Homo sapiens: one gene and its partner. The protein of the gene in region 1 binds, or shares a complex with, the protein of each later gene. Each region holds a gene or a part of one and is shown on either strand. Other genes may lie near its edges.

What was found.
Region 2: the proteins of TRPC5 (region 1) and GNAI3 are in contact, whole or in part, in a cryo-EM structure (PDB 8GVX), measured with the Homo sapiens proteins. Residues at the interface, in NP_036603.1 of Homo sapiens: Thr27, Glu32, Glu33, Glu56, Ile57, Tyr58, Tyr59, Asn60, Lys125, Pro128, Thr129, Leu130, Met131; in NP_006487.1 of Homo sapiens: Arg205, Arg208, Lys209, Trp211, Ile212, His213, Phe215, Glu216, Glu245, Leu249, Ser252, Asn256, Lys257, Trp258, Arg312.

The regions. Positions count from the first base shown.
Region 1 is NC_000023.11:112,074,431-112,089,949, reverse strand, and holds the start of TRPC5 (short transient receptor potential channel 5), read left to right. Parts: upstream 1-7,173; 5' UTR 7,174-8,071; intron 8,072-15,519. UniProt on the Homo sapiens protein: Forms a receptor-activated non-selective calcium permeant cation channel. Mediates calcium-dependent phosphatidylserine externalization and apoptosis in neurons via its association with PLSCR1.
Region 2 is NC_000001.11:109,567,513-109,582,792, forward strand, and holds part of GNAI3 (guanine nucleotide-binding protein G(i) subunit alpha-3), read left to right. Parts: intron 1-6,224; coding exon 6,225-6,267; intron 6,268-6,383; coding exon 6,384-6,525; intron 6,526-11,691; coding exon 11,692-11,849; intron 11,850-14,924; coding exon 14,925-15,053; intron 15,054-15,280. UniProt on the Homo sapiens protein: Heterotrimeric guanine nucleotide-binding proteins (G proteins) function as transducers downstream of G protein-coupled receptors (GPCRs) in numerous signaling cascades.

The DNA of each region.
Region 1 (15,519 bases):
TTCCACACTGAAAACTACAAAACACTGCTGAAAGTAATTAAGGAAGAACTAAATAAATGGAAAGACATCATTGTGTCATGGATTAGAATACAACATTGTTGAGATGGAAATATTTCCCAAAACTATCAACAGATTCAATGTACTCACTATTGAAAGCCTAAAGGATTTTTTTGAAGAAATGGAAATGCTGATCTGCATTTGGATTTAAGGAACCCTGAACAGCCAAAACAATCTTAACAGTCTTGAAAAAGAAGACCAATGTTGGAGGACTCACACTTCCCATTTTCAAAACTTAATTCAAAGATAATAGTAATAAAAACGGTGTGGTATGGCATAAAGGTGGATCTATAGAACAGTAGAATAGAATTGAAGGTTCAAAAATAAGCCCATATGTCTATGGCCAATTGATTTTTTACAAGGTGCCAGTATCATTCGATCAGGAAAGAATGGTCTCTTCAACAAGTGATACTGGGACAACTAGATATTCACACACCAAAGAATGAAGTTAGACCCCATCTCACACCATAAACAAAAATTAACTCGAAGTGGTTTAAAGACCTAAATATAAGAGCTAAAACCATAAAACTTAAAAGAAAACACAAGAGTAAATCTTTATGACCTTAGATTGTGCTATGGTTTCTTAAATATAACACTGAAAGCATAAGTAACAAAAGAAAAACAGATTCCAGGGGGGAGGGATAGCATTAGGAGATATACCTAATGCTAAATTACGAGTTAATGGGTGCAGCACCGCAGCATGGCACATGTATACATATGTAACTAACCTGCACATTGTGCACATGTACCTTAAAACTTAAAGTATAATAATAATAAAAAAAGAAAAATAAAAAAAAGAAAAACAGATAAATTGGGCTTCAATAAGCTTTAATACTTTTGTACATCAGAGGACACTATCATAAAAATAAAAAGACAACCTAGAGAATGAGATAAAATATTTGCAATATTTAGATATATTGGATAAGGGACTAGTTTATGGAACATTTAAAGAACATTTATAACTCAACAACAAAAGGACAGTCAACCCAGTTTCAAAAGTGGGCAAAGGACTTGAACAGACATTTCTCCAAAAAAGATATATGATAGGTGCATAAGCATGTGAAAAGATGTTCATCATCACTTTTGTCACTGAGGAAATGCAAACCAAATCCGCAATGAGATACCACTTCACACATGCTAGGATGGCTGTAATCAACAAAATGGAAAATAACCAGTGTTGGTGAGGATGTGGAGAAACTGGAACCCTTGTACATTATTGATAGAAATGTAAAATGGTACAACCACTATGGAAAACAATTTGGTGGTTCCTCAAATAGTTAAATATAGAATTACCACATAATCCAGCAATTCCTCTCTTAGGTAGGTCTCCAAAAGATTTGAGAACATGTATTAAAACGAATACTTGTACACTAATGTTTGTAGCAGCATTATTCATAATAGAAAAGGTGGAAACAAGCGAAATGTCCAACATCTGATGAATGAACTAAGTGAAATATATTATATCTATACAATGGAACATCAGTAGGTTGCAAAAAGAAATTAAGTACTGATTATATGCTACAACACAGATGGACCTTCAAAACATTATATTAAGTAAAAAAGAAGCCAGACCCAAAAGGGTAGACATTGTATGACTCCATTTTTTTATGAGATATCCAGAATAGCTGAATCCATAGAAACACAAAGCAAATTAGTTGTCAACAGCTGGAGGGGGGCGGAAATGGGGGAGTGATTGATTCAGGGATACAGGATCTTCTTTTGGTATGATGAAAATGTTTTGGAGCCAGGCGCGGTGTCTCATGCCTATAATCCCAGTTCTTAGGGAGGCAGAGGTGGGAGGATAGCTTGAGCCCAGGAGTTTGAGACGTGCCTGGACAATATAGCGAGGCCCTGTTCTCCACAAAAAGGAAAAAAAAGGCAAAAAAAAAAAAGAAAATGTTTTGGAACTAGATAGAGGTGAAGGTTGCACAACATTGTGAATATACTGAATGTCACTAAATTGTATAGTTTAAGATGATTAATTTTATGTTATGAGTCACTTCAATACAAAAAGGCAGAAAGGGAGAAGAAAGGAAATTAGCAGTTAGTGAGCTACTGCTATATATTAGGCTCTGTGCTAGGCTTATGCATTATCCAATTAAATCCACTAAACGACACTGTGAGTCATTGTCCCCAGCTTACAGATAAGCAAACCAAAGTCCATGTAACCTAATTTCCATAGCTAAGAAACATGAATCTGGAATTCAAACCCAGGTCTGACTCCAAAGCCTACACCCTTTACCACCACCTACTCTGTAGGAACCTCCCATAGCTCGCCTCTCATTACTCTGTCCATAAGGACTTGTGTCTTTGATCAAGAATAAAGCATGGCTCACCAACTACTCCTTCACAATGACAAACTTTCCGGAGAGAAATGCTGAAATTTCTTGGCCCTACTCCCAGCCTCCATAGATTTTATAAAACATGATCTGCAGTTGGGGTGATTTTTAGGAGCTTCAGGAAGTCCTCATCCCAAGGACATACATGTTCCCTCATGCTTGAACTCTTTTCATTAAAGAGATAGAGCCCTTTTCCCCACAATTGGAAAAAAAAAAAAAAAAAAGCTGAAGACCAATCTACTCCTGGGAGAGGGAACACATTAGTATAGTGATTAGGACAGATTATATCATTCCATGAGGGATAGTTTTTAATAAGCTGGGGAGGGGGCAGGCAAAGTAAAGACTAAACCTACTCTTCCTGAGGTCCCACAGAGTCAGTCACAGACCAGCAAGACACAATTGGAGCCTTCTCTGTCACTATCCTCTAACCTCAGGCAAGGTGCTTCTCAATGGTCCAATATTCTGCAATGTCCTATGATTCTGCAATTACACTTTACAAATTTGCTCAGAGCTGGCCCCATTTGCATTGCTATTAATGGTGAGGACAGCAAAGTCCTTAGCTAATCCATGAAGTGAAGCTCTGTTTACACATCTTTTATTAAGATTAATCATTAATTAATGTAAGGCTTTATCCCTTGATTACAGGGATCCCATTCTGATATAACAGTTTAAATGTTCTCTTGAAAAATGAAACATATTTTTCAATTACAGTCATTCGTCGTCCCAATTCAGGCAAAACTTTTATTTAAATAAATAATTAGTCTTGGCAATAGCATCATAATGTATGAATGTGTAAAGTTTGAATGTGCTAATTGTTGGTTCCTGCATTAGTCTTTATAAGTGACATGTTGCTATATATATACGTGGTATTGGGCTAAGAATTATCCAAAGCAAGTAACACTGATGCAGTCCTGCCTGGCTCACCGGAAACTTATTTTCTAAGGCAGGAGCTTACTCAACTGATTTGAACAGATATTCCATGCTTTCTCCTGCATTTTCCTTTGCTGAATTCCTGATCAAGATCCTACAACTTGCATTAGTGTTGTTTGACTTCCTGAGGTAGAGATAGTGCTGAGTGTTAAAACCCATAATCACACTGAGATATTTTTTCAACACTCCACAGTATTTTAAGAATCACCTCTTTTTACATTCCATTTCTTTTGCTTTTGCCATTGTTGAGTATTTCTCTAGCATGCAAGTAGTTAGAAACTTTCCTTGAAAACAAAAACCTGCTTTCAAATTGCTCAATTTGTTACAGCCTTTGTGATGTTGTAGTCATTTTTATGCTGGATACAGTGTTATGACACAAATGCCACACGCTGAGAAGTCACAAAAAATTGTTGTAGGACTATGCTAATTAGCAAAACAAAATGCAATCTCTATAAGGCAGAACCTCAAACAATAAGCCACTGTTTGGGGACAAATAGGAAATAGAAGAGGGAAAAAGCCAGGTTGGATTCAATCCAGAAATTGGTTATCTATGAAAATCAGTAACCCTTTCCCCTTGGGGAAAGAAAGGTCAATAGTTTCTTAGCATACTGAAGGCTGGGATTATGTCTTACAGATCTTTGCTATAATCAATACCCTACTCATAGTGTGTGCTTGACAAGAATTTGATGGTAACCAGAAGATGGCATTGTTGATAACAATGAATTCCACCATTTGTCAAAACTTAGCTAATTTGTGAGGGTTCCTTTTTATGTCGTTTCCTCACAAAATATTCATTATTTTCTGAGACTCTGTTCAATGCAAAGTCTGGACATGCCATGTGGGTAGAATTAAGGTTAAAATATGGTCTTTGAAATGTGACATTACCTTAAATGGCACTCATTCTATATGGTGAGGGGATAATTTTGCTCCCCAGTGGACATTTGGCCATGCCTGGACGCATTTTTGGTTGTCACAAATGGGGTGTGGGTTCCTACTGGAATCTAACAGACAGAGGCCAAGGATGCTGCTAAACATTCTACAATGCACAGGGCAGCCCCCCAACAAAAGGAATCATCTGGCCTAAAATATCAATAGCATCGAGGTTGAGAAACCCTGCTTAATGACTGGGAAAACCCCACTCTCTGGATTCCTCATAACAGTTTCTCTTCACCTACGATGTTACATTAAACTCTGGTCTACATATACCATTTACCACTATGGTCAAGGCTGTAAGAAGAGAGGAGAAAAGAGTATGTCTCAATTACATTTTAACAGTCATACCTGTCATGGTATTTGAATAGGCCAGGCCATGTAAGTAAACCTAGTCTAGAAGCTAGGTAGTTCTGGGCTTAAATTAGTCAGATAGTGGCTTCCATTTTTGGCTTTGAGCCACTTTTGCAGATGTAGCCTCTAGGTGCAAACTACCCTGGGAGACATACACACTCAGCCACCAAGTGGAAAACCAGAATATGTCCCTATTGACAGAGAAGATGAGCCACCCAGCCCCAAGGCTGACAAGCAACCTAGACAAAGCTTGGGTCCCTGCCTAAGTCAGCTTTCTAATTGCACTAGGAGATACTCTGCTAAGTTTGTTTTGGAATTCGTATAGTAATGCCTGGCATTTGTATGGTGCTTTTAACTTTTGAAAGGATTTTTCTTTATATATCCTTGATCTGAAGAGGTTAGAAGGATAGGGCAGAAACAGGATAGGGCAGGAGCAGAGAAAGAAATTTTAACCTTATCCACAGTCCACTGGGAAAGCTCCAAATTTCAGAAGCACACACAGTCCTCATATGTTAAAGACAAGTGCATTGGATATAGGGCCTTTGAAGGAAACAGCTCACAAGAATAAGGCTTTTGCTCTCCCTGAGCACTGCTTCTGGTTGCATCTGGGCTTGGAGTGGAAGTCTCAGCTGGACTGCAGTTTGGCTAAAAAAAGGGAAATGCCCCCAAAGTTTTATCCACGGTCACATATTCTACTCACCCTCATGCCAAAGGGAAGACGGCTTAATCACAACATAGACCTCCCTTGTTTGGGAGACTGTATATTAGTTTGCTGGTTCACAGTAAAACTGCCTTTGAATGAAAGGCAAAGAATCAAGTGATTTTTTTTTTTCAGCGACCCTCTTGGCCAATCTTTAGAAACACTTCCTGAAGTATTTAAGTTGTTAAGAGGTGGAAGCTCCACCCTCACTTCTTCCTCCCCAACTCCCTTCCCCCCAGACACAAACTCTTCATCCCCCAGGGTAATAATTTTCTTTTCTCCAATACCTTGCTCCCATACAAAAGCTAAATACTCTCCAGAATATTGGACTGCCTCGGGACTAGGAGGACTAACGACAAGGGGAAAATTTGTCTTGCTTGGTGCCCCGAGCGACTTTTCCAAGGTAGGCTAGGAGGAGAGTGCTTAGGGCTTCCACTAAACATAGCTACTACCAGCTTCACAGGCTCCGCAATGAAAACACTCGGCCATTTAGGCAAGGGAGATGATTCTGGCATTTTCGGGAGCTTACACTTAGGCTCCCAGGGCGTGCAGAGGGGGTTAAAGAGCAACAGGAAGTACAGTGGAGTTTTCTCAGAGCTAGGGATTGTTCTGAGAATGGGTAGGGAAAGGTTTTCAGGTACCAGCCCGGCGTCCAGAAAGGCAGAGACTCACATGCCCCTTTCCTGAGAGCGCTAGGAAGGGAGATAAAAGACAAAGCCAATATTTGGGGCTGTGCGGCCAGGCCATGAAATGCTGCCAGCTAGTGGACCTATGCGCCTGCAGGTTGCAGGTAGAAGTCTCAGGCTTGTGGTGGGGGTGGGGCTATTTAGCCCCTTCCAGTTGGGCTCAAGAGGGTGGACATTCTGAGCGCCAGGCTATAAGGTGAAAGAAGTGGAGAGGTGCTTCATGTGAAAGGAAGGCGTAAAGATCAAAGAGTGGCCCAAGTGTCCGGTGACACCGCCCCTCTCCCTCCACAACAGATACCACTAAGCAACCTAGCCCCCCGCCCCCATCCTACAATATCACTTTCCCTCCCTGTATCAATCTAGGCTGGATCTTGGGAGATCGACCCTATGGGTGAGAGGGGCACGGATGGGAGAATTAGGTAGCTCCAACTAGATTAATCTAGATCTATCAGGGATCCAAGCCTGCCCCATAGGACCCCAGGTCAGTCCCTGGCGACTCAGCGCTCCGCTGTCTCCCTGTCCTACCAGCCGCCCGCCGCCCTTACTCCCCCAGGTTCAACTCCCCTTCCTCCTGAATGACCTATGGTCGCCGGAGCAGCCTCGCCACCACCGGCCCAGAGCCCAGGCTGACGGGGGTGGGCAAAGGTCACTGCCCAAAGCAGGGGATATTCAGGCCAAGGGGCAAAGAGAGACTCTGCTAGCCATATGCTCCGAGGGACTCCTGTCCCCTCTACCCGCACCCGCGCTTAGCCTCCCACCTCCCCTCCCGTCTCTGCCACCACCCAGGGGAGGGGGAGGTCTGGGGAAGCAAACAAACGAGACAGAAAATTCCGTACCGAGGGGGGAGAGATGAGACGGTGGGACGGGGCAGCGGGGGTTGACTTGGGGCTGCGGCTGCGGCTTCCTTCCACCCCTGGCCGCGGAGCTGCAAAGAAGGCAGGAGCTGCTGCCCCTGCCGCCTGCCCCGTCCTCCCTCTTTCCCTCTCGCCTCCCCGCCTCCCCCGCCCCGCCCCGCCGCCAGGAGATTGAGAGTGGCTTCGGCCCGGGGGCTGGGGGAGGTGAGGGGTGCTTTTGCCTACCACGGTTGTCTCAATCTCTCTCTCTCTCTCTCTCTCTCTTTCTCTCTCTCTCTCTCTCTCTCTCTCTCTCTCTCTCACACACACACACACACACACACACCCCACATCACAACCACGACGGGTTGTCCGCAGCTCGCAGCCACCCCAAAGGGAGGAATAAAGAACAGGAGCAGAGGGAAGCCGGGCGCAGAAAGAAGGGAAAAGGAAGAGCTCAGGGTTGGACATTTTTGGAGACAGGGGTGGGGAGGATAAAGGGAGCGTGCCTCCTTGATTTTCCCCTCCCCACCCCTCTTTGCTTTTCTCTCCCCTTCTCTGTATAGCATATTCCAGAAACGGCAGCAGAAGGGGACAGAAACCTCTAGTGTAGAAAAGGGTTTTGGAGGGGTAGCCAGCGCTCCCGCCAGCCGCTACCTAACAGCTGGAGCTTGAGTGTGCGTGTAAGAGTGTGAATGCGGCTCTCTCTCTTTTTTTCTCTCTCTCTCCCCTCTCTCTCCATCCCTTCCTTCCTCCCTCCTTCTCCCTCTCCTTCACACTACAGTGTCAGCTACCCCTGTCAGTTTCCCCGTGTCAGTTTCTTCCCTAGCTCTTATTGTGTGTGACTGGCTGCGTGAAGGGAGTGGGTGCGCTTGAAGGGGCTCAGGTTGGGTTAGAGAGCTGGGAGAACAGGGTAGGGACATTGGTAGAGCAAAGAGTTTCAGGGCACTGGCGAAGGTGAAAGGTGAGGAGGGCCGATCTGTTACAGGCAAGTTTGGCAATAACTGAGCATCCAAAGGGGAAGCCAAGGTAGGAGCCAGTACTTGCGCTCGTCTTTACACCCCGCCCCTTTCCCTGTGCTCATCCGCCCACCCACCCATCAGCCTAGAGGCCCCGGGCTGTCCCAGTCGGCTGCTGTTTCGCGCCGCAAAAGAGGAGTCCGGCAAGGCGCCGCACCACGCATCCTGGCCGGTGGACATCCAGACGACACAGATTTTATCCGAAAAAACCACTTGGCTCAGGGTAAGTCTACAGGCGGCCGGTGCGGTCCATTTCACTGCCTGAGTGCTGCTGAGGGGCAAGGGGCAGCGAAGTGCGGGTTGAATGAAGATGCTGGGCTGCTGTAGGCGGAGAAGCATTGACTGGCTGGCTGTGGGCTCAGGGTGGTAGGGAGCAGAGGGAGGCCAGCAACAGATTGTTTTGGAAGAGGAAATGCAATGGGGAGAAGCTCCAGGGTTGATAGGACAAGGTGCTGCCTGCGATGACCAAAAACATCCTTTCACTGGGAATATTTTCCTGAACCACAGCTTTGTCCTATCCCTGGACAATGATTTGCTCCATTCTTGGGTAGATTTTAAGATCCGTGGGGAACCTGCTCCCAGGCCTCCTTAAAATCGATTAGTGTGGCCCTCGGACCAAGGATACCTGCCCTTCGTCAAAAGCCACCTTCAGAAATAGAGAGCCAGGAGCCGGATCATGAAGGTTCAGGAACCAGGGTCCCCATTTACCTTCTTTGTCTTGTATCCTTCAAACTTAAGAAATGGCCAGATTTGTTTGCCTGTCTTCCTTAAAGGAACCAAGAAATGCAAATGGAGGGGCATCAGTCAGATCTCTGCTTCAAAGTGGACACCTCCCTCCCTCCCTAGACACACATCGACTCGGACAAATGGTCATGATCATGTCCCACATATGCAGGTACTGAGCTGAATTCACAGATGCTGATCTTTCTCCATGGTCTCTTAGAATGAGACTAGAAGGGCTTTTTCCCTATTACAACCTGGGCTCTTTGGATCGCAGTCATGTACCTGGTGATGGTTAAGTGTTTAGCAAGGTTATTACTCCCTCAGGAAAAGCCTGAAGCGGGGAAACCAGCCTGAAAGATAGAACCTCTGAACTTTACCCGAGTTTATTATAAGAGTAGGAGAGACATAGACTAATTGATAATGCTCTTTTTAGAGATTGTGCATGTTAACCCTTGGCTTCAAATGTGAAATGATTACAACATTGACATGGCACACCCAGACCCACTTTTCTATTGCCATATATTTATCTTCATGGCATTTAACAAGAATGACAGATTTATATATCAGCATTCATAATTGTCTATTGTTGGTGTCATAGGTTTTTTGATGTTTTATTGATGATTTATATTATGTCTCCTTTCCCATAAACTCTTTAAAAACTGAGATATAAATGATGTCACATGGTACCTTTCATCATGTCTTTAAAATCTGCTTATTCTAAATCAAAAGGCATGTTAATATATTTACATAGTACGAAGTTCGTTTCAAAGCAAATATATAGTCTGGGATAAAAGAAACCCACAGGGTCAAGGAGTCTCTGAAGCTCTCTCTGTGAGGTCGAAGGAAGAATTGAATGTCACCTAAAATCCACATTTTGGTCCCTGGAAGATGCTGTTTTCATAAACTTTCACAATATACATAGGGAGAGAGAGAAAATCTGTGTGTGTGTGTGTGTGTGTGTGTGTGTGTGTGTGTGTGTGTGTATGTAGTTTTTCAAGGACCTCAATCAACCCCATACAATCTTGGCTCTGCTTTTGTAACAGAGGGGAGCAGGAGGTGAATTTGTGCTTCCAAAGCACCCAGGTTCGTCTGTTAAACTTTCTATTTATTACTATGTTACCAAAATGCAATGAATTGCCTCTTTCCAACTCAGCAAATAAGAGAAACGGATTCTGCATTAAGTGAAACTGTTTATGTTGCATCAGGCAATTCTTTCTAATGTTCACTGCTGAGAGAGAGCAGAATGAGGATTACTCAAGTAGGATCTGAAAAGGTGCCCATTCTGTTACTTTTTAAAGCAACCATAGTAAGTATTTTCTTAGGTTAAAATTACACTTTCAAATAGATATACTAAAGACCGGGTTGCAGACAGGTAGGAAAGAACTGGCAGCATCATAATTGGGGAAAAACTCAAAATATCAGCACGAATGAAGCCTACAGTGTAGGTTTTGCTCTGTTCTTGGTGATGTGAGTATCTGGCTGTTGAGGTAAGTCCTGATGGTTACCCAGGGGATAAGCATGTGAGCAGGTTCAGGGATTCAGAACCAATGTAGCCCCCGGCTTCACTGATACTAATTCACCTGGCTTCAGTGTACATCTCAACATGGAGACCTGAACCAGATATCTGCCATCCTTCCCAGCCACAAGAGCTATAATCCTAAGATTCTGTTCTTTCTATAGCTAACAACTAAAACCGGAATGGCACGCAGAACCACAGTACTTAGAGAAGACTAGGCCAGGAAATTAGAGATGCAGAAGGGAGGAAGATGAGAGGAATATGAGAGAACCGAAGATGTTTTGAAACAAACAGAAAGAAAACTATCCAGGTGTTTGCTTTGACTGGGAATGGAATTAATCCAGAAATCAACTCATATGTGAAGCATCTTAAAATTGCCTGTATTTGACTTGCAAACACTGTGTAAACAATGATAGAATTCCATAGTACCAGGGAATTGGGAACCTTGGAGTACATTCTCAGTGTTGCTGTCTCATTTCTCTCCTTACAATATTAAATTCCAATCTGCAAGCCATTCAGGTGCTTAGTTATTGAATGGATATTTCAAATGTGTCATGATGCTTTCCTGTAGCCTGTTTTCGAATATTCTAATTTATTTTTTGCCATGGCTCCATCACTGAAGGTGGTAGATTGAAGCATTTCTGCCTGCTTTACTTCTGCCAAAGGTTCCTGTTTTCACCTTAGTATACTAAGCTGTTCAGATGCCTCCTGCTAACTGATGAAGAATATAAGGCGCAGAATCTCTCTCCCCAAAGTACTCTGTGCCACAAGGTGCCACTGGCCTAATCTGGCCCAGTCATTTGCCAGGTTTGCAGGGAAAGGTATGACAAAGTTTGCAGCCTATAGACAGAAATAAAGCCTCATTCTAGGCAGAAGTTATTCCTCATCCCACAGATGAGGGATAAGCTAAGGCCAGCCATCATGTCCAGAGCCTAGTAGCTGACATATCCACAGTGTCATCCTTTCTAAAACTCACGAAGCTTTTCTTCTGTTGATGGGCCCCTCAAACTTTGTCCAGTGAGACCAGCAGAGCCATACTGCCAGCAAGGAATGATTCCTGAATGACTCAACTGTGGTCTTATAAACAAACATGTACATCATGCTCAACTGAGTGAGCACAGATGATTTAAAGAAATTATAAAAGCTGATAGGGGCTAAGAAAAATTGCAATTTGCTGGGTGAAGGGAACTTTGCAAGTTTCTTAGGTTTGGTTTTCTGTCACCAATTCTGGAGTTGGCCCTTGGATGGTGGTGGCCAATGCAATTGCCCCAGGTTTTTGCCTTAGCAAAAGGAAAGAAAAAATAACGATAAGAAACAAGCGGGGATCTTGGAGGGGTCAATCCTCTCATTTCACCTATAGAGAAATTGAAGTCTAGAGAGTAGAAATGACCTGCCTAAAACAGACTACTAGCTAACAACAGTGGCAAAACCACAACCCAGTACTGTTTGCTGATACGAAATACATTTTCTGAAGTTCTGTGGAGATCTTCCCAAGAAATCGAGAGGTAACTAAAGTCAAGTTTACCAAGATCACAGCCCTCTACTTCCATTCCATATGTATGTATACGTGTTTATATTATATGCTGCTGTCATATCTTTGTGACTTACCTTCTTGACCACCACCTCCCCCTAACACACACACACTCACACACACAATCCTATCTTGCTAGCTAAGAAAACATTATATGTGTCTATAGCTAGCGTATTCAGATGGAAGGCAGAATTAAACATGACAAAAATTTAGCTGCTCACATTTATGTGTCTGATCTGGCTCACACCACCAACAGCAAGGCATCTAGAAATCCCAGTCTGTTCTGCACCATAGTAGTTTTGGGGAATGGAAGCTAGCAGAATCCAGTGACTATGGCTCTGGTTTAGTATACTCAGTCTCAGAATCAGCCCCCCAAATGCATGTGCAAATACACACACATGCACACACACACAAACATGCACATACAGTCACACTCTTTCCGAAAAATTAAAACAAAGAAAATAGAAAAGATAAGGCAGGTGGTTTTTAGAGCAGAGTACAAGAAGAAGGAAAGGTTTGCAGACGGATATTCTTACCTTCCCCCATTCTTTAGCCTTATTGCCTAATTTTCATTAATCCCACCCTAATTTATTTTAGGATCTGAGAAAATAGAGCAATGCAAACATGTTTACTACAGCCCAGAAGGATGATCTGAAAAACCTCCACATTTGAGTGAGAATATCACAAGGATAGGGAAAAGGCTAGGATGTAGTGAGCTAGAGCCTTGCTACTCCAAGTGTAGTCCCCACACCAGGATTGCCACCATCCCCTGGGAGCTATCTATAAATGTAGAATCTCAAATCCTTCCCCAGACCGACTGAATAAGAATCTGCATTTTATGAAGATCCCCAGTGATTCATTTTTATACTAAAATTTGAGAAGCACCGGGCTAGAGCTTATCCAAAAAGCATCTGAAAGATATTTGAAAATAAACAATTACCTACTGAGCATGTAGGGACAATTCATGTGGCTTATCAATTAAAAAATAAAATATAAACTTTTTCCAGGTCCACTTATCTTATTATTCACTGTAAAACCCTTCAGTGTGGGCAAGAGAGTTCATGTAAAGGGAGTGAGATCATAGGATTTGTTTATTTACCAGGACGACTTGGGTGTGGGAACTCACACAGACCTGAGTTCAAATCCTGGCCCTGCTCACGAATTACTAGCTGTGTAAACATGCACTTTGCCTCTAAGCCTCACAGTCCCCATCTATAAAATGGGATTAATAATAGTACCAACTGGCACTGGGCTGTCATGAAAAATTAAATAAGACCGTATAATGCACTGGGATATGGTGAACAATCAATAAATAGAAGATATAATTCATACGATTTGGCTAATAATTTTAGTTTGGTAGAAAACCAACCACTAGATGTGATATATTGGGGCACCTAGCATTATTTCTAATTGACGTGAATCTTACTGGGTTTTCTACAGATAGAATGCTAAGATATACAACAGTAAAATATATTTAAATATGATGGAGGCCACTAGAAACAAATATTTTTTCAGAAGGAATTACAGGTGTCCCTAGTGAAATCACTCCATGGAAGAAGACTGAAGTCAGAAGTGGCCCTGTTCTATGAAGCATATCTCAAAATATTACCAAGTTAGAAAGTCAAAAGTGAGGCATTTTCTGCATGTTTGCATATATATGCAGCATGAAAACACACACATACATACACACACACGGACGCATCATTTGATGGACAAATTATAAAATAATTCAAGGCCAAAATGACATTCTAGGAGCAGAACTAGGTTTCTGCCTGATAAAATCTTTAAAATGCACAAATAATAACCTCTACTTCGTAACTTGCTCATGTTGCACAGTTTAATGGCTTAGGTATATACTATAGCTATTACTATTTTGTAGGTGAAAAAAAAAGAGCAACTCCTACCTCTTCCCAGCCCATGGTGCTACCTACCTGCTCAATTTTCTCACCAGTAAAATATGATACACGTAGTACTCATAAAGTCCAAGAAATCACCAGGCACTTGATTCTATAAAGACTTATTGACTGGCATGTGCAATCTGGGCAACCTGATTGTAAAGACACAGAGACAGACACTACCACCTCTGGATCCCAGTCCTTTGGTATGTTCCAGACCTCCAGCTTCCCCTGATTTTCAATAGTATCAGATTAGTAAGGTATCAATAATCTTATAATAGACAATATTTATATCTAATTGCTAAGATTTCTGTGATCACCCTAAATAAACAATAGCACGTGTTATCAATTATTGACTATCTTTATATTAGTTTTCTATTGCTGCCATAACAAATTCTCACAACCTTATCAATTTAAAACAACACAAATTTATTATCGTTATAGTTCTGTAGTTCTGAAGTCTGACACAGGGATCACTGTGCTAAAATCAAGGTTTCAGCAGGACTGCCTTCCCTTCTGGAGGCTCTAGCAGAGAATCTACTTCCTCACTTACTCAGATTGTTGGCCTAATTCACTTCCTTGATGTTACAAAACTGAAGTCCTAATTTCTTTGGTGGCTATCATTCCTAACTTCTAGAGACAACCCACATTCCTTAGTGCATGGCCCCATTCCTCTGACTTCAAAGCCAGCAAGGGCCTGTTTGATGAGGGGGAACTCAGCTGGCCAACTCCTGTCTCTTCTCCCTTTGCATCTCTCTCTGGTTGACTGTTCTGCCTTCCTCTTCTGCTTTGTTTTGTGCTTACATTGGGCCCACTGACATAATCCAGGATTATCTCCTATTTTAAGGTCTGCTAATTAGCAACTTCAATTATATCTGAAAAATCTTTTTCACCATGTAACATATCATATTCACAGGTTCTGGGGATAAGGGTGTTGACATATTTACAGGTTGGCCATATCTTGTCTACCATAATCTTCTGTGTGTTGAGTGCTACAAATATGGGGTTTTAAATGACATTCACTACAGTTTCTATATGATAGGTATTATTATTATTCCCATTTAACAGGTGAGGAAACAGGATCAGACAAGTTAACTGGTATGTTTAACATTGCGCAGCTTGTGAGTGGTGGAGGCAGGGTTGGAACACAGGTCACTCTTCCTCCAAATCTTGAATTTTCCCTGTTGGCCTACATTATGCTGAACGTGGCCTGAAAGTTTGTAACTCACATAAAATATTTAACCTCAAGAACGAACAGAAAACGTTATCCTTTTGATTGTTGTCATCTTTACATAGTGGTCATCACCAGAAATTTTTTTAGTAGCTTTTAGTCTAATGATAAAGACCAAACAATGAAGAAAGATTGACAGGAATATAAAATGTATATTTGTTTATACATCTAGGAAAAGGCTGATGAAGTAGTGATGGGTAGGTAAAGAAGATTGTCGCAGGATGTTTGATGTTGCAAAAGAGAGGATTTTCACATTTGTTACGGGGCAGTTATGCCAAGAAAGAGGAAAATGAGAGGGCTAGTTGGAAGGATAGAAACAAGAGAGTGTTAAGGAGTAATTAAACAGCTCAATCCTCAAAGTGGTAATTGAGCCCCTAATATCAATCACTTGGCGAATATTCGCTCAGTGTGCACCAGGTGGAAGGCACTGTTGGGAATGCAAACAGGCATGCCCTTCCTTTTCCCTCTAGGAACTTTCGACATGGTCAGAAGTGAGTGGGATGATGGGAGCAAACATGAAGTGAAATCCTGGTGTGGCCAAGTAGGGCATCATGCTTTAAGCCATTCATGGAAACAGGCAGGTACTTCCAGGAGATAGAGTGGGGAAGTTCAGTCTGTAGAGGCCTTTAGATGTTCAGGCTGTGCTGGATTTAATTTAGTGGATGAAAGGAAGATACGAAAGGATTTGGAGATTTTAAAAAAAGAAATAATGATAACCCATTTGGGAATGATTATTCTGGAAATGGTGTGTAGGAATTCCGGATTGGTGGAGGAG
Region 2 (15,280 bases), on another chromosome or scaffold:
ATAGGGTGAAGAAAACGACTAATGCTCTGATATATTATAGTTTGCTGTAACTTTTAGGTTATAAGTTGCAGTTTAAGTGTGTGAATTCAGATTCTATCTAGGATTTTATTATTATGAAACCACTGCTAAATAGTTACACCATTTTTACTGGAATTTTGAACCAACATCAGTATCCAAGTTGTTATTACTAAATAAAACTTTGCGAGGCCTTAACGTTACTTGGTGATATTCTCAACATTGGAAATGGCATTCATAAATAATAGCTAGCTAACATTTATGGAACATTTACTATGTGCCAGGCACTGTTTTAAGCATTTTTTATTGACCCCCATTCAGATGAGGAAATTCATTGTGCTTGAAGGCACAGAAATAGAAATTCACATAGTATACTCATGTACTTTCTTTGGACTGGCTTTAGTCAAATGAAAGAGAAAAAAGAGAAGGACTCAGGGGATAGTGTTTTTTTTTTTTTTTGAGAATTAGCCATCTGTCAGGGTTAATTTTTAAAATCAGTCTGTATGTGAGCTGAATGAGTTTGCTCATATGTGATAATGGTTTATTTGTTTTAGCAGTTCCAAATTCCAATCACTTGGGGCCTTGTTTAAAAATTATCTTGCAAAGAAATTATCACCATCTCTCACTTTGCATACCCATAATGTAATATATGTTATTGAGGGGTGGAGAGCATATGCTCTGGTACCTGCTCAGAGATCTTTTTAAAAATACAATTAAGAACATGTGTCTGGGTGCAGTGGCTCGCCCCTGTAATACCAGCACTTTGGGAGGTGAGGCGGGAGGATTGCTTGATCTCAGGAGTTTGAGCCCAGCCTGGGCAACATAGTGAGACTTCATCTCTACTAAAAATAAAAAAAAATTAGCCAGGCATGGTGGTGTGCCCCTGTAGTCCCAGCTACTCCCAGCTACTCAGGAGGCTGAGGGAGGAGGATTGCTTGAGCCTGGGAGATTGAGACTACAGTGAGCTGTGATTACGCCACTACGCTCCAGCCTGGGTGACAGAGCAAGACTCTGTCTCAAAACAAAAAACAAACAAACAAAACCCCATGTTTAGGTAAATACAGTGATTCTACATTAGAGTACATATTGTTGAATTTTTTTTTTGGTCTAACAGTGTTGATGATTATGTATCCAAACTGTAGATAAACACAGATGATTTTCTTTTTCTTTTTGCCAGAACAAGGTCTTGCTCTGTGCCCAGGTTTGAGTGCAGTAGCACAGTTGTAACTCACTGCAACCTTGAACTCCTGGGCTCAAGAGATTTTCCCAAGTAGCTGGGATTACAGGTGTGTGCTACCAGGCCCAGCTAATTTTTTGTGTTATTCTTGTTGTTTGTTTTTTTTTGGTAGAGATGAGGTTTGCCTATGTTGCCTAGGCTGGTCTTGAACTCATGGCCTCAAGTGATCCTCCTGCCTTGGCCTCCCAGAGTGATGGGATTATAGGTGTGAACCAACCATTCCCTGTCCCCAGATAGTTTTCTAAATTAATCCTCTCCCTTTATTCTCTGCAGATTGCCTTGCCTCTTTTATTGAGAATGAAACTAACATGGCTTCCTTCCTCCTTTTATTCTCAAAAATCTCCGTGACTTCACCTCTCATCCTTTTCTCCTACTTATATAGGATATCCTTTAAAGGATAAAGCTTCTGTGTTGAACGGATCCTATTGCCTCCTGTTTCTGGGACCTTTCCAACTTTTTCTCCCCTGTGTATCCTAACCCCCTGCATAGTTCCATCCCTTCTGCATACAGAGTCCTCTTCAGTTCCTCCCTTTTGAAGCCATAGCTGCTGTCTTTGCAGTATCCTTTGCATCTTCCCATTCTTTGTATTTCAACTATTACTTCCCTGGTGTATTGAAGATGGGCAACTGAATCTCTCCTTAAACTTGTGATACATTTTTGAAAAAAGATAGATAAAAGATGCAGATAAAATTAGGAAGTTCTGAACACCACATGTGTTGTGGAGTAGGGAGATGGAACATAGGAAGCAGCTTGGGGAAAACGCAACAATGAGATGTTATGAAAAGGGAGCTTACTGCTAGAACAATGGAGCACAGAGAGTTGAGGTAAAAGTGAAGAGCCCAGACCTAATAAGAAAGGGTTATAGAAAGTGTTTCAATAATTTGGAGAATTATTAGATAAACTGATGGTTTTAAAAATAGTGCCCCTGAGATGGAACTGGAAGCTCAGGAGAAGATATTAGTGTGATAATAAAGGGAAAGGCAAACTGACATTTTCTCAGGGAGCCTTGGAAAAATGTGAGAGAGGTAGGGCAACAGAGGGTTTTTTGTTTTTTTTTTTAATCAGCGCATCCATAGGGTAGGATTAATGAGATAGGTAGAAATTGATTCTGAGATTAATGGATTTATTATTTCATTCAAGATAATCTCACATGAATGATGGAAATGTGGTTTTCAATATATAAAAGAATGGTACACATTAATTCATTAATCTCAACTTTTCTTAATTTAGTAGCTCTTGTTACTATGGATAATCTGGGAATTCTGTCTTTTAAGCAATTTAAAATATAACTGGTATGCATTTGTATTTTCTTCCCAGAGTAGAATCATTGGATTTTTTAGATATGAATGAGAGGATTCACCTTTTTATAACAGCATCCTAAGAAAGTCACTATGTGCTATTTGAGTATTAACTATTTAGTACTACCCCTGATTATCGATTATGTAATAAGACAAGATCATATATAAATGTACCTTTTGATTCTGTAAGAATGTAGTTGTCTAGAATTTTTATATTTGGATTTTAATTAACTTTTGGTTAGTAAAGTTGAGAAATATTTAGTAAAGAATCATGGTTACTAAATATTATTCATTGTTTAGTAATATTTATTTGAGTAGATAATTTATGTCATGACCAGTTTAAGGCCCTGGGAATGCAGGGATGAATAAGCCTTCATGGAGCTTATATTTTAGTGGGGAAGATAAGAAATGAGCTAATCTGTCATGTGAAGAAGTGGTAAGTGCTATGAAAAAATATAACACAGAATAAGGGGAGAGACTGTGACGGGGTGGGAGCTATTTAGATAGATTAGTCAGAAAAGGCTGTTCCTGTGAGGAAGAAAATCTTGCAAAACTTATTTCAGGTAACAGTAAACGCAAAGACAGGAAAGACAGAGTCAGGACCTAACTCAGTAAGAACCGGTTTGGTATGTTGGAGGAAAAGCAAGAATGCTGGTCTGACAAGAGCTGTGAGGACAAAGTGGAGAGTAACAAGAGATGAGGGTGAAGAGGTAGGCAGGGGCCAGAGCATATTGCACCATAATGCCCATGGATTTTGAGTATAATTGAAGATCGTGTGACAAGATCTAATTTACATTTTACAAAGTTTATTCCACCTACTGACTGGCAAACTGGCTTTAGAAAAGGCAAGGTCTGAAGCACTGAACTATTTAGGAAGCTTTTGCAGTGATCTAGGCCTATGGTTTCCAATGTTCAGGAACAAACTGTTAAAACTATTATATTAACTATTTATATTGCTTTATTTAAAAAAATTAAGCTTTACTAATATTTAATATACAGATTGGCACTGGCATCCTTGTCTTATCTGCACGTTAGTCACATGTCATTTAACATTTTTGGCTTGAGCAACTGGTGAATGTTGGTGCCATTTACTGGAATGAGAAGACTGAGGGAGGAGCAGGGTTTGTTTTGAGGTGAGAGTGAGTTGGGGAATCAGTATCTCAGTTTTGAGCATTTTAGGTTTGTGAAATCTAAATACCTACTAGAAATCTAATATCAGGTAGATGGTTTAGATATATGAATCTGGAGCCAAGGTTAGAAGCCAAGATTAGAGATCTAAATTTGGAAATCATTAGTATAGAGACAGTATACACCAGCTTTGGAGCCAAACTGTGAATGCAAATTTCAGTTCTGCCACTTACTAACTGTGTAATTATAGGCAAGTTACTTGACATCTGTCTGCATCATTTATCTCATCTGTAAAATGGGGGTAATAATGTCTACCTCATAGGGTTATTGTGAGGATTAAATTAGTTATTACAAACAAAGTGATTAGAACAGTGTGGCCGAGGGTACTCACTAGATGTTAACTGTTAGGATCAGTTTTTGAATAGTGTTTAAGCCATGAGATTAGGGCCGGGTGCGATTGCTCACTTCTGTAATCCCAGCATTTTGGGAGGCCGAGGCAGGTGGATCGCTTGAGCCCAGGAGTTCGAGAGCAGCCTGGCAAACATGGTGAAACCCCGTCTCTACTAAAAATACAAAAATTAGCCAGGTGTGGTGGCGTGTGCCTGTAGTCCCAGCTACTCAGGAGGCTGAGGCAGGAGAATCACTTGAACCTGGGAGGCAGATGTTGCAGTGAGCCAAGATTGCGCCACTGCACTCCAGCCTGGGTGACAGAGCAAGAGTCTGTCTCCAAAAAATAAAGACCATGAGATTAGATAACTTAGAGAATGAGTTTAGATAGGGAAAAGGGCCAAGGAGGGACCCCTGAAGCAATATAACCTTTAGAATTCAGAAACTGGGTTGGGTGCGGTGGCTTTCGCCTGTAATACTAGCACTTTAGGAGGCTGAGGCGGGCAGATCACCTGAGGTCAGGAGTTTGTGACCAGCCTGGCTAATATGGTGAAAAACCCTGTCTCTACTAAAAATACAAAAATCAGCTGGGTGTTGTGGCAGGCGCCTGTAATCTCAGCTACTCAGGAGGCTGAGGCAGGAGAATTGCTTGAACCTGGGAGGCGGAGGTTGCGGTGAGCCGAGATTGTACCATTGCACTCCAGCCTGGGCTACAGAGCGGGACTCCATCTCAAATAATAATAATAATAATAATTCAGAAACTGGAGAGAGGAGATTGAGGAGTGAAGTAGGAATCAAACCTGAAGGGTATGTTGGCTAGAAGCCTGCCTAGTGAAGAAAATATTTCAACTTAGACAAATTCTGCTTGAGAGGCTAAGATGAGCACCAAGAATTGACCAACTGGGTTTGTCAAGATGGAAGTTTTTGGAGACCTTGAGAAGTAGTTTTATTAGAGTGGTGGGGATGAAAGCCTGATTAGCATAGCTGAAGGACAGAATTGGATGTACGAAATTGGAGGCACTGAGTATAGATGGCACATTAGAGGAGTTTTGCTGCAAAGAGGGATAGAGAAAATGGTGTGGTAGCTAGAAGAAAATGTGTGGGGTCAAGGAAAGTTAGGGGTGTGTATGTGTGTTGATTTAAAGATGGAAAATAGTATAGTAAGTTTGCATGCTGATGAGAATGACCCAGTGGAAAGAAAAAACTGATCATATTTGAGATGTGGAAAATATCATGGGAAATTGCAGCAGCCATGACCTTGAGTAGGTAAAATGAAGGTGCATAAGGGGAGAAGTTGATTTTAAAACATTGGCAGAGACTTTTCATCCATTGATGAAGGTAGAGAATATTAATGGAGGTACAGATAGACTGGTAGATGTCGTTGTGGGAAAATGTAGTTTTTTCTGATTGCTTTAATTTTTATGGAAAAGTAGGGTAGGATCATCAGTTGAGAGTCAGAATTGGGAGGGGGTTTATAAAATTTGAGAGAGAGGAGGTGGTGTGATATAGGCATCTTGGAAGATAGGAAAATGAGTTGACTAGGGAAGATCTAGCAGGTGGATTTGTCAAGGAGGTCAGAAGGCTAGCTTGACATTTGTGGTCATTTGTTTAAAGTGATTCCAGCTGGCTAAGGAGGGCAGGGTGGTCTTGAGATGACATATGGTGAGAAATTGATAGGAACAATGCCTTTTCTGCTTCTATTTGAAACATCTTTAGTCCTGTGACTGGTAGTATTGCTCTCAGAACATTTCTGTGGTATAGGCAGGCAGCAACAGAGGAATTAATAAAAATGAATAGACCAAAAAATAATGATTTCATTTTTGCCCATGTTCAGTGTTTATATCATGTTTTATGTAGTGAATGAGTTCCTCCAAAAGTTTATGTTGCCATCTGTCCTTGGATATGCCTATTTTACACAAATGATACCAAGCAAGCCCTAGGACACTTTCAATAAATTATACTTGGTTGCTGAGTTATGTAAAGAAAGCAAAATGCTGTAGTGGAGAAGCTCCATACATTTTCTTGATAGACATGAAAGCCTCACCAAAATTTTCCCTAGGACCCGTGGTTTTCATCAATCTAGAGTTATCATTCATGTTGATATTATACTTTTATGTTGATTACCGAGAAATTCAAAGTCTGGTTTTCTTTTCTTACAGGTGCTGGAGAATCTGGTAAAAGCACCATTGTGAAACAGATGAAGTAAGTTGGAATGTAGCGTTTTGTTAGACTAGGATTTCTCCTAATGCATATAAAGTCCATAGTATCTTTTCATTTTAGGTCCATGGTATTGACTTGTGGTTTTCTTTGTTTTAAAGAATCATTCATGAGGATGGCTATTCAGAGGATGAATGTAAACAATATAAAGTAGTTGTCTACAGCAATACTATACAGTCCATCATTGCAATCATAAGAGCCATGGGACGGCTAAAGATTGACTTTGGGGAAGCTGCCAGGGCAGTAAGTGTTTCTCATTTCCTCTTCACTTGCTCTTATTCAGCAGATACAGTTAAGTTAAGCAAAATTTTTGCTTCATGTTTTAGGGAAATGAATTTAAGCAACAAGATAAAATGTAGCAAAGTACTTTGTGCTCACTTGAGAAATGTTAGCAATCTACTTTAGCAGGTGTTAGATATAACCACCCCAAGAGGAGCCTAGGAAATGGGATTCTGTGGGTGCACGGTAGGTTTCTGGGATAACTGTTCTATTCAATTGCTTTTTTTTTTTTTTTAACAGCACTGTTGACTTTTATAGTAGTAGATAATAGTACATTAAAATAATCTAAGAGAAAGGTTGCCATGATATGTAGCTCTGCTTTCTGAGGTGTACAGATTAAAGGCCAAAATCAGTCTCCCAGAATAAATTCTGTAAGGACATGAGCACTAAGTCCAAATTCTTGAATATCTAAGTCAGATATTCAAGAATACTGTATACTACATGGAACCTAAGGCTATAGAATTGGAGTATAACATGCCCTAGTATAATTCTTTAATGCCTTGCACATGTCAGCTATTTAAAAAGTTGTATTATTATAATAATACTTAGTGGACCCTGAAGATCTAGTTTATAAAATTAGAGCATGTGTAATTAGGATGTTTTATGCCATTGGGGAGGGTGCCAATATGAAGGCAGGAGATCTTTGATATTATTATCAGCTAAAATCCAGAGAAGGCTGGGAAATTATAGAATTATTTCCTACATCTAAGGGACTCACTGGCTGTGTTCAGAGTGTCATACTTATGTGCCATGGCGAAATAAAAGGAAATGATTTGGGAGGTCTGCCTGGAAAGGCAAAACCTATATGTCTATGAAGTTGCTTAGGAACTCTCATAAGCCACTCCCAACTTATCAAATGCGAATTTATATTTGATAAAAAGATAGGAAATTGTTGAGGGGAAATACTGAAAGGGTAGTCACAGTTGGATAGTGTTAGACTAGAAAGTGTCTTAGAAATGGCATAAAGGAAGAGGAGCTGGATTAGGGATTGTGAAATGAGAGACTTGTATCAAAAAATAAGAAAATATGTGAATGTGACTTTTATATTTTTGTGAAATATATCACAGAGACTATTTTTCTATGCATCTGAGCAGGGAAGTTTGGCAGTCAAGCAAAAATAAAGCCTTTATCCTTGTCTTACCCTTTCCTATTCCTTCTCTCACCCCCTGCTTTTGTTTCCTTCTTTTCCTCTTTTTCTTCTTTATACCAGCTCTATCTGTGGTCTTATTTTTTCTTCCTCCCTTTTCTCATTTCTCCCTATCACCTAACTCTACTTCTCTGTTGTATTTGTTGTATCTGGTAACTGGTCAGTAGTACTGTATTTATTCTCTTCCTTCTCTCTGTTGGTTTTTTCTCTGTCTCAGTTATTTATTCTTTTAGTTTGTCCCTTTTCTCTTTCCCTCTTTAATTTTATTCCCCGCCGTCTGTCTTCCTTTATTTATCTCCCTACCCTTTCATTTCTTTTTTTTTTTTTTTTTTTTTTTTTGGAGACGGACTCTCGCCCTGTCGCCCAGGCTGGAATGCAATGGCTGGCTGCAGCCTCTGCCTCCCAGGTTCAAGCGATTCTCCTGTCTCAGCCTCCTGAGTATCTGAGATTACAGGCGCTCACCTCCACGCCCAGCTAATTTTTGTATTTTTAGTAGAGATGGAGTTTCACCATGTTGGCCAGGCTGGTCTCGAACTCCTGACCTTGTGATCCGCCCGCCTCGGCCTCCCAAAGTGCTGGGATTATAGGCGTGAGCCACCGCTCCCGGCCCCATTTCTTTCCATTATCAAATCAATTGTCATTAATCTTTGTATCCTAATACTCTTGTGTCACCAGATGCAGTTGACATCATTAGTCCCTCTCAGGCCTCCTAAATCATCCAGCTTTCTGGTGTCCACACAACCTAGTCTGTAATCCTATATTATAATTTTTAAACATTGCTTTTTATTTTTCCTTCTGTGTGTAAGGTTTTATGTTTATAGCTCCTCTCTTATTGTCTTCTAGTATTTTTGTTTGTTTGTTTTTTGAGGCGGAGTTTTGCTCTTGTCACCCAGGCTGGAGTGTAACGGTACGATTTTGGCTCACTGCAACCTCTGCCTCCTGGATTCAAGTGATTCTCCTACCTCAGCCTCCCAAGGAGCTGGGATTACAGGCGCCTGCCACCACGGCTGACTAATTTTTGTATTTTTAGTAGAGATGGGGTTTCGTCATGTTGGCCAGGTTGGTCTTGAATTCCTGACCTCAGGTGATCCACTTGCCTTGGCCTCCCCAAGTGCTGGGATTACAGGTGTGAGCCACTGTGCCCGGCTTCTACTCTAGTTTTTTATAGTTGGTTAGAGAGTGTGAATGGAAAAAAAATAGAGCTGAGTGTGGAATAGGTTCCTTTTTCACATCTGCTTAAGTGTGGAGGTGTGAAGTTTATTGTAAAGAGGGGCCTCTTCTGTTTTTTTTTTTGTTGTTGTTTTTTGTTTTTTTTGAGACAGAGTTTCACTCTTGTTGCCCAGGCTGGAGTGCAATGGTGTGACCTTGGCTCACCGCAACCTCTGCCTCCTGGGTTCAAGCGATTCTCCTGCCTCAGCCTCCCGAGTAGCTGGGATTATAGGCATGCACCACCATGCCCGCCTAATTTTTTTGTATTTTTAGTAGAGACGGGGGTTTCTCCATGTTGGTCAGGTTGGTCTGGAACTCCTGACTTCAGGTGATCCATCTGCCTTGGCTGCCCAAAGTATTGGGATTACAGGCGTGAGCCACCATGCCCAGCCAAGAGGCACCTCTTTATAGACCTTTAGAGAGGGTTTATTGTGGGGAAGCAAGAGCAGGTCAGTGGAAGAAATTAAGTGATAAGAAAAAAGTGTTTGCTCCTAAAAGAATATTTAAAGAGTCAGGACAGCAAAAAAAGTAGTAATAATTCCCTCTCTTTTGAAGTTTCTAAAATTAGAGTCATGGTTTTTTTCTGTTTTTTTTTTTTTTTAAAGTAGTGCTTAATAAGGTTATTTGAATACGTGCATGGGTATAGGTCAAATTTCAGAACCAGGGGATTATGAAGACTTCACATGTTAGATAAAGCACCATACCTTGCATATGTACAAGGACATGCTCACTGCTGAGTATGTTTGCCAATTTGTCTAATATTTCAACTTTTCTCATTCATTTGTTTAAAATTTTATCTTTGAAAAGAAAGGGAGGGGCATATAGATCTTAGCTAAGGTGTTTTTTTTGTTTTTTTTTTTTTTTTGAGATGGAGTTTTGCTCTGTCGCCCAGGCTAGAGTGCAATGGCACCATCTCAGCTCACTGCAACCTCCGCCTCCTGGGTTCAAGCAATTCTCCTGCCTCAAACTCCCGAGTAGCTGGGACTACAGGCACACGCCACCATGCCCAGCTAATTTTTGTATTTTTAGTGGAGATGGGGTTTCACCATGTTGGCCAGGATGGTCTCAATCTCTTGACCTTGTGATCCACCCGCCTCGGCCTCCCAAAATGCTGGGATTACAAGTGTGAGCCACCATGCCCGACCAGCTAAGGTGTCTTAGAGTTGAGCCTAGTCTACCGCCATGCCACCCTGAATGCGCCTGATCTCAGAAGCTAAATGAGAGTGGGTTGAGCCTAAATATTACTAGAAAGAATACAGGAAAGGATCATAAAGGAGGAAATATTACTAGGTAAAAACCATTAGAGCTGGAGACCCAGAGTTTGGCAAAAATAATTTGAGTGCACCATGGATGGTTTTGTTTTGCTAAGGTGGATGCACAAGTTCTGGTAATTCACAAGTCTTTGGAGTTTTAGGTTGTGAGTTCACCTGTGGTCTGAAATGACTTTTGCTTGTTAGTTTATTTGTCTTGATGACTACTTAAGATACAAATGATTGCTCCCCTTTCTCCTTTACTTTTTCTTTACACGTTATATACTTTTTAAATTTTTTATTTTTATAGTTATTTGGAATCTCTCAAGGTAGATAAATATTAGATGTGGATGGGAAAATCATCCCGTGAGACCTGTGTTTAATTTTAAACCAACAAGTAGGGATGGATAGAATAAAGGAAAACAATAAAAATCTCATAATCCATTTCTGTCCTCTCCCTCACATATTTTATGTTTAAAAACTATAACCACCTAGAAAACTATGGCTATGTCTGGGCCCAGTGGCTCACGCCTGTAATCCCAGCACTTTGGGAGGCTGAGGCGAGTGGATCACCTGAGGTCAGGTGTTCGAGACCAGCCTGGCCAACATGGCGAAACCCCTCTCTACTAAAAATAGAAAAATTAGCTGGGCATGGTGGCAGATGCCTGTAATCCCAGCTACTTGGGAGGCTGAGGCAGGAGAATCGCTAGAACCCAGGAGGCGGAGGTTACAAGGAGCCGAGATCACATCATTGCACTCCAGCCTGAGTGACAAGAGCGAAACTCCGTCTCAAAAAAAAAAAAAAAAAAAAAGAAAAGAAATAAAGAAAACCATGGCTATGACTCATGAAGTTATGGTTACTTTCTTTTCCTCCTGCTCCCTTCCTTTCCCTCTCTCAGAACATTATTATTATTCCTTATTCCTTTAGGGAAATCTAGGGACTGTTTGAATCTTTCCCTGAGGGATTTATTTCCCCCATTAGGCTTCTAGACCTTAAGTGCCTCCATCTCCTCTTCTTGTTCTACTGTCTGGGCTGAAGGCAAAGAAGAGAATACTTTTTTCTTAAACTTGATTAATGTTTTACTCCCTTTGAGGTGTTTAGACTTTACCTCTTATGTGCTAGTCTTTTTATTTCTATTTTTAGTGTAGGCTTCCTTTAATAGAACGGGAATGTTTTACATAATCCTGTCTCATAAACCAGTTTTTTTCTCTCAAAAATTATTAGCAATCTGGATGGAGATTTGTGGGCTGGCCAGAAATGATCTTTTCTGGGGATGGTGGTGTGTGGAGGAGTGGTGGGGAAGTAAAATCATTCCTCAGCTCAGTTCTGGACTTAAAACTGTAGTGAAATGAGAATAAGGAAAGACTTAATTATAAATTCTGTCATGCTGGCCTGTCAGAAAAGGTCTCTGTAACAACACCTCTTTTAACATAACATGTAATGTGTCTATATTTTAAAGAGACTGTCATCAAGTCTTAAAGAAATGGAGAGTCATCTGTCTCTTTCTTAACTGCTTTCTTCAGGATGATGCCCGGCAATTATTTGTTTTAGCTGGCAGTGCTGAAGAAGGAGTCATGACTCCAGAACTAGCAGGAGTGATTAAACGGTTATGGCGAGATGGTGGGGTACAAGCTTGCTTCAGCAGATCCAGGGAATATCAGCTCAATGATTCTGCTTCATAGTAAGTAATTTTTCTCTGTGAAACTATAACAGAGAATAACTTGGTGACACTACAGAAATTTTAGTCCCCACTTAAGGAAATGTTTAAGTAATAGACACTCTTAGACGTTTATAGGATACTTTATAAAAATTGTCTAAGTTTAGGATTATAGAGCCCTTGGTCATTTGTATGATTTGGAGAAAAAAGTTCCCTCTTGGAATGTAAATGGGAGACTTGGCACCACAAAATTAGTTCCATGGCATTTTATTATAAGCAAGTGAAGGAGGAGAGACATCTGTTGTGGCTGGGTTCTGAATCTGTTCCAACTCATAAGTTCCCTCTGTGTAAGGGCTTGGCACTGATAGCCAGCTAGAGAGGGAAATTAGAATAGTGGTATTCCTTTTTATGCAGCCAGCTCTCTGTGTCTGGGCCGCACTATGGACTTCACTAGTAACCCTTTTGCCAGATCACAGTAGTAGACTTTGTATAGAAAGAGAAGGTTGAGTCATGGAATGAAGTTGAAGTATCTTTTTGTCAAGGATATTATCTTGAGTGTTAATATAGTTTTAGAGAATTTGTAATGAATACTTATATTAAGCTATTACATGTTATCCTATTTTACCTCTTTTACATATACTTATTTATGAAACCTAGATTCAGAATGTATTTTTTTTGTTTTGAGACGGAGTCTCGCTCTGTCGCCCAGACTGGAGTGCAGTGGCTCCATCTCCGCTCACTGCAAGCTCCACCTCCCAGGTTCACACCATTCTCCTGCCTCAGCCTCCCAAGTAACTGGGACTACAGGCGCCCGCCACCATGCCCGGCTAATTTGTATTTTTAGTAGAGACGGGGTTTCAACGTGTTAGCCAGGATGGTCTCGATCTCCTGACCTCGTGATCCACCCACCTCTGCCTCCCAAAGTGCTGGGATTACAGGCGTGAGCCACCGTGCCTGGTCCGGAATGTATTTTTTTTTAATGTACTTTTGCGGGGCCTGGTGAGCACTTGTTATCTGTATTTCTCTCTGTACTGGATGAGGGCACGTTTAAGCATTAAAGTTTTTTCTCCAATATTACTGTTTTCCTACTTTTCACGTCATGATTCTAGCTTAAATTGTTACAAGAAGAAATTAAATGATATAGTCAGGCTGTGCATAAGGACAGGGATACTTTCTGAAAAATGCATCATTAGGTGATTTGTCATTGTGTGAACATTGTAGAGTATGCGTACACAGAATTAGATGGTATAGCCTACTACACACCTAAGCTATATGGTATAGCCTGTTGCTCCTAGGCTATGAACCTGTACAGCATGTTATTGTACTAAATACTGTAGGCAATTGTAACATAATGGTAAGTATTTGTGTATCTCAGCATCTCTAAACATATAAAAGGGTAATGCAATGGCTATGATGTCACTGGGGCTAGGAGTGTTTCAGCTCCATTATAATCTTACAGGATCACTAGCATACATTTATACAGTCTGTTGTTGACCAAAACATTGTTATGCAGCACATGACTGTATTTGAAAACTTGCTTATTCTTTCAATGAGAACTTGGCTTTAGAAACGTTTCAGGATTCTTGCCTACCTTTTAATAACATCTTAGTTGCAAGTATTGATAGCTTAAATAATTCTACCAGTGGTCATCAAAGGTAGATTATAATTGCTTTTTTTCATCTTTCATTCAGAAAGCTCTGAATCCTCTAACTACATGTGCTTATAGAGATTTTCATAACTGTTGATCTAAGCTTGCCTCTTTACATTAGTGATAGTATTTGGTTTTATAGATCATTAATGATTCACTTACATTGGTGCCATCTGCTCATCAGTTTTCTAGCCTGGAATCAGCAAAGAATACAGTTTTGAAGCAGTCTTTTAATTATTTCCCTGAACAAATTAATTTTTTTGGAGGTATTTACAATTTGTTTTTGATTTAGATTAAAAAAAAAAACCCCAGACCTCCCCAGCTCTTCTGTTTACTGAAAGAAAACGGAAAATATTCTTACTCACTATAGTTCTCTCAATTTTAGTTAATCAAACACCATTCTCTAATGTCCTGTCAAATGGTTAAACACGCATGACCTATTGAGTTTAATTGTCTGAGGACTTTTGGTATAGTTTGGTTTTGATATTATACAGTACACAGTTGATTTAGTATTACATTTCAGGAATTTTTCTTTAATAAGAACATTTCCTGTTCCTATTGTTTTAATTTTTTAAATTGGCCTTCACAATTTAATTCTGTAGAATTAAACCTACTTTTGTGTCCGGGCGCGGTTGCTCACGCCTGTAATCCCAGCACTTTGGGAGGCCGAGACAGACGAATCACCTGAGGTCAGGAGTTTGAGACCAGCCTGGCCAACATGGTGAAACCCCATCTCTACTAAAAATACAAAAAATTAGCTGGGCGTAGTGGCGGGCACCTGTAATCCCAGCTGTTCAGGAGGCTGAGGCAGGAGAATCATTTGAACCCAGGAGGCGGAAGTTGCAGTGAGCCGAGTTCGCACCACTGCACTGCAGCCTGGGTGACAGAGTAAGACTCTGTCTCAAAAAAACAAAACAAAACAAAACAAAACAAAAAAACCTACTTTTGTTAATATATATAGACTCTATACTTTAATTGTCCTATGTTGGATTCATATTTTTTCTTATTATTTCTTTCTTTTTTTAAGAGACGGGGGTCTCACTCTGTCACTCAGGCTGGTGTACAGTGGCACTCTGCAGCCTTGACCTCTTGGGTTCAAGTGATCCTCCTGCTTCACTCAAGGGTAGGAGGATTAGCTAGGACTACAGGCATGCACCACCATGCTTAGCTAATTTTTAAAATATTTTGTAAAGACGGGTTTCTTTATGTTGCCCAGGCTGGTCTTGAACTCCTGGCCTCAAGCGACCTTCCTGCCTTGGCCTCCCAGAGTGTTGGGATTACAGGTGTGAGCCACCATGCCTGGCTTATCATTTCTATGATACTGAAGATCTGATTCTGTTTTGCCACTTAATAACTAGTAACAGGTTTAAAATAGGAACTAATTTAGTCTGTTCATTTGCTATGCACATGGTTGGCTTCACCAAGTAAAAGTAAACGTGTCTTTTATTTAGTTATCTAAATGATCTGGATAGAATATCCCAGTCTAACTACATTCCAACTCAGCAAGATGTTCTTCGGACGAGAGTGAAGACCACAGGCATTGTAGAAACACATTTCACCTTCAAAGACCTATACTTCAAGTAAGTCATTAGCCTTTTTGCTAGGTGTGCCAAATACAAGTATCTTTCATTTTAGTTTACCATCTCTTAATCAGGGTAAAATTTCTCTGGGCAGTATTCCTTGGTTTAAACTTAACATATTTATCAGCATTGTTTGAATATTTTAACTGAATGGGGGCCCAAACATCTCTTGTTTCTCCAAATAGCGTCAAATGTTTGTGTCCTTTTAGAGGAATTTAAATTCAAAA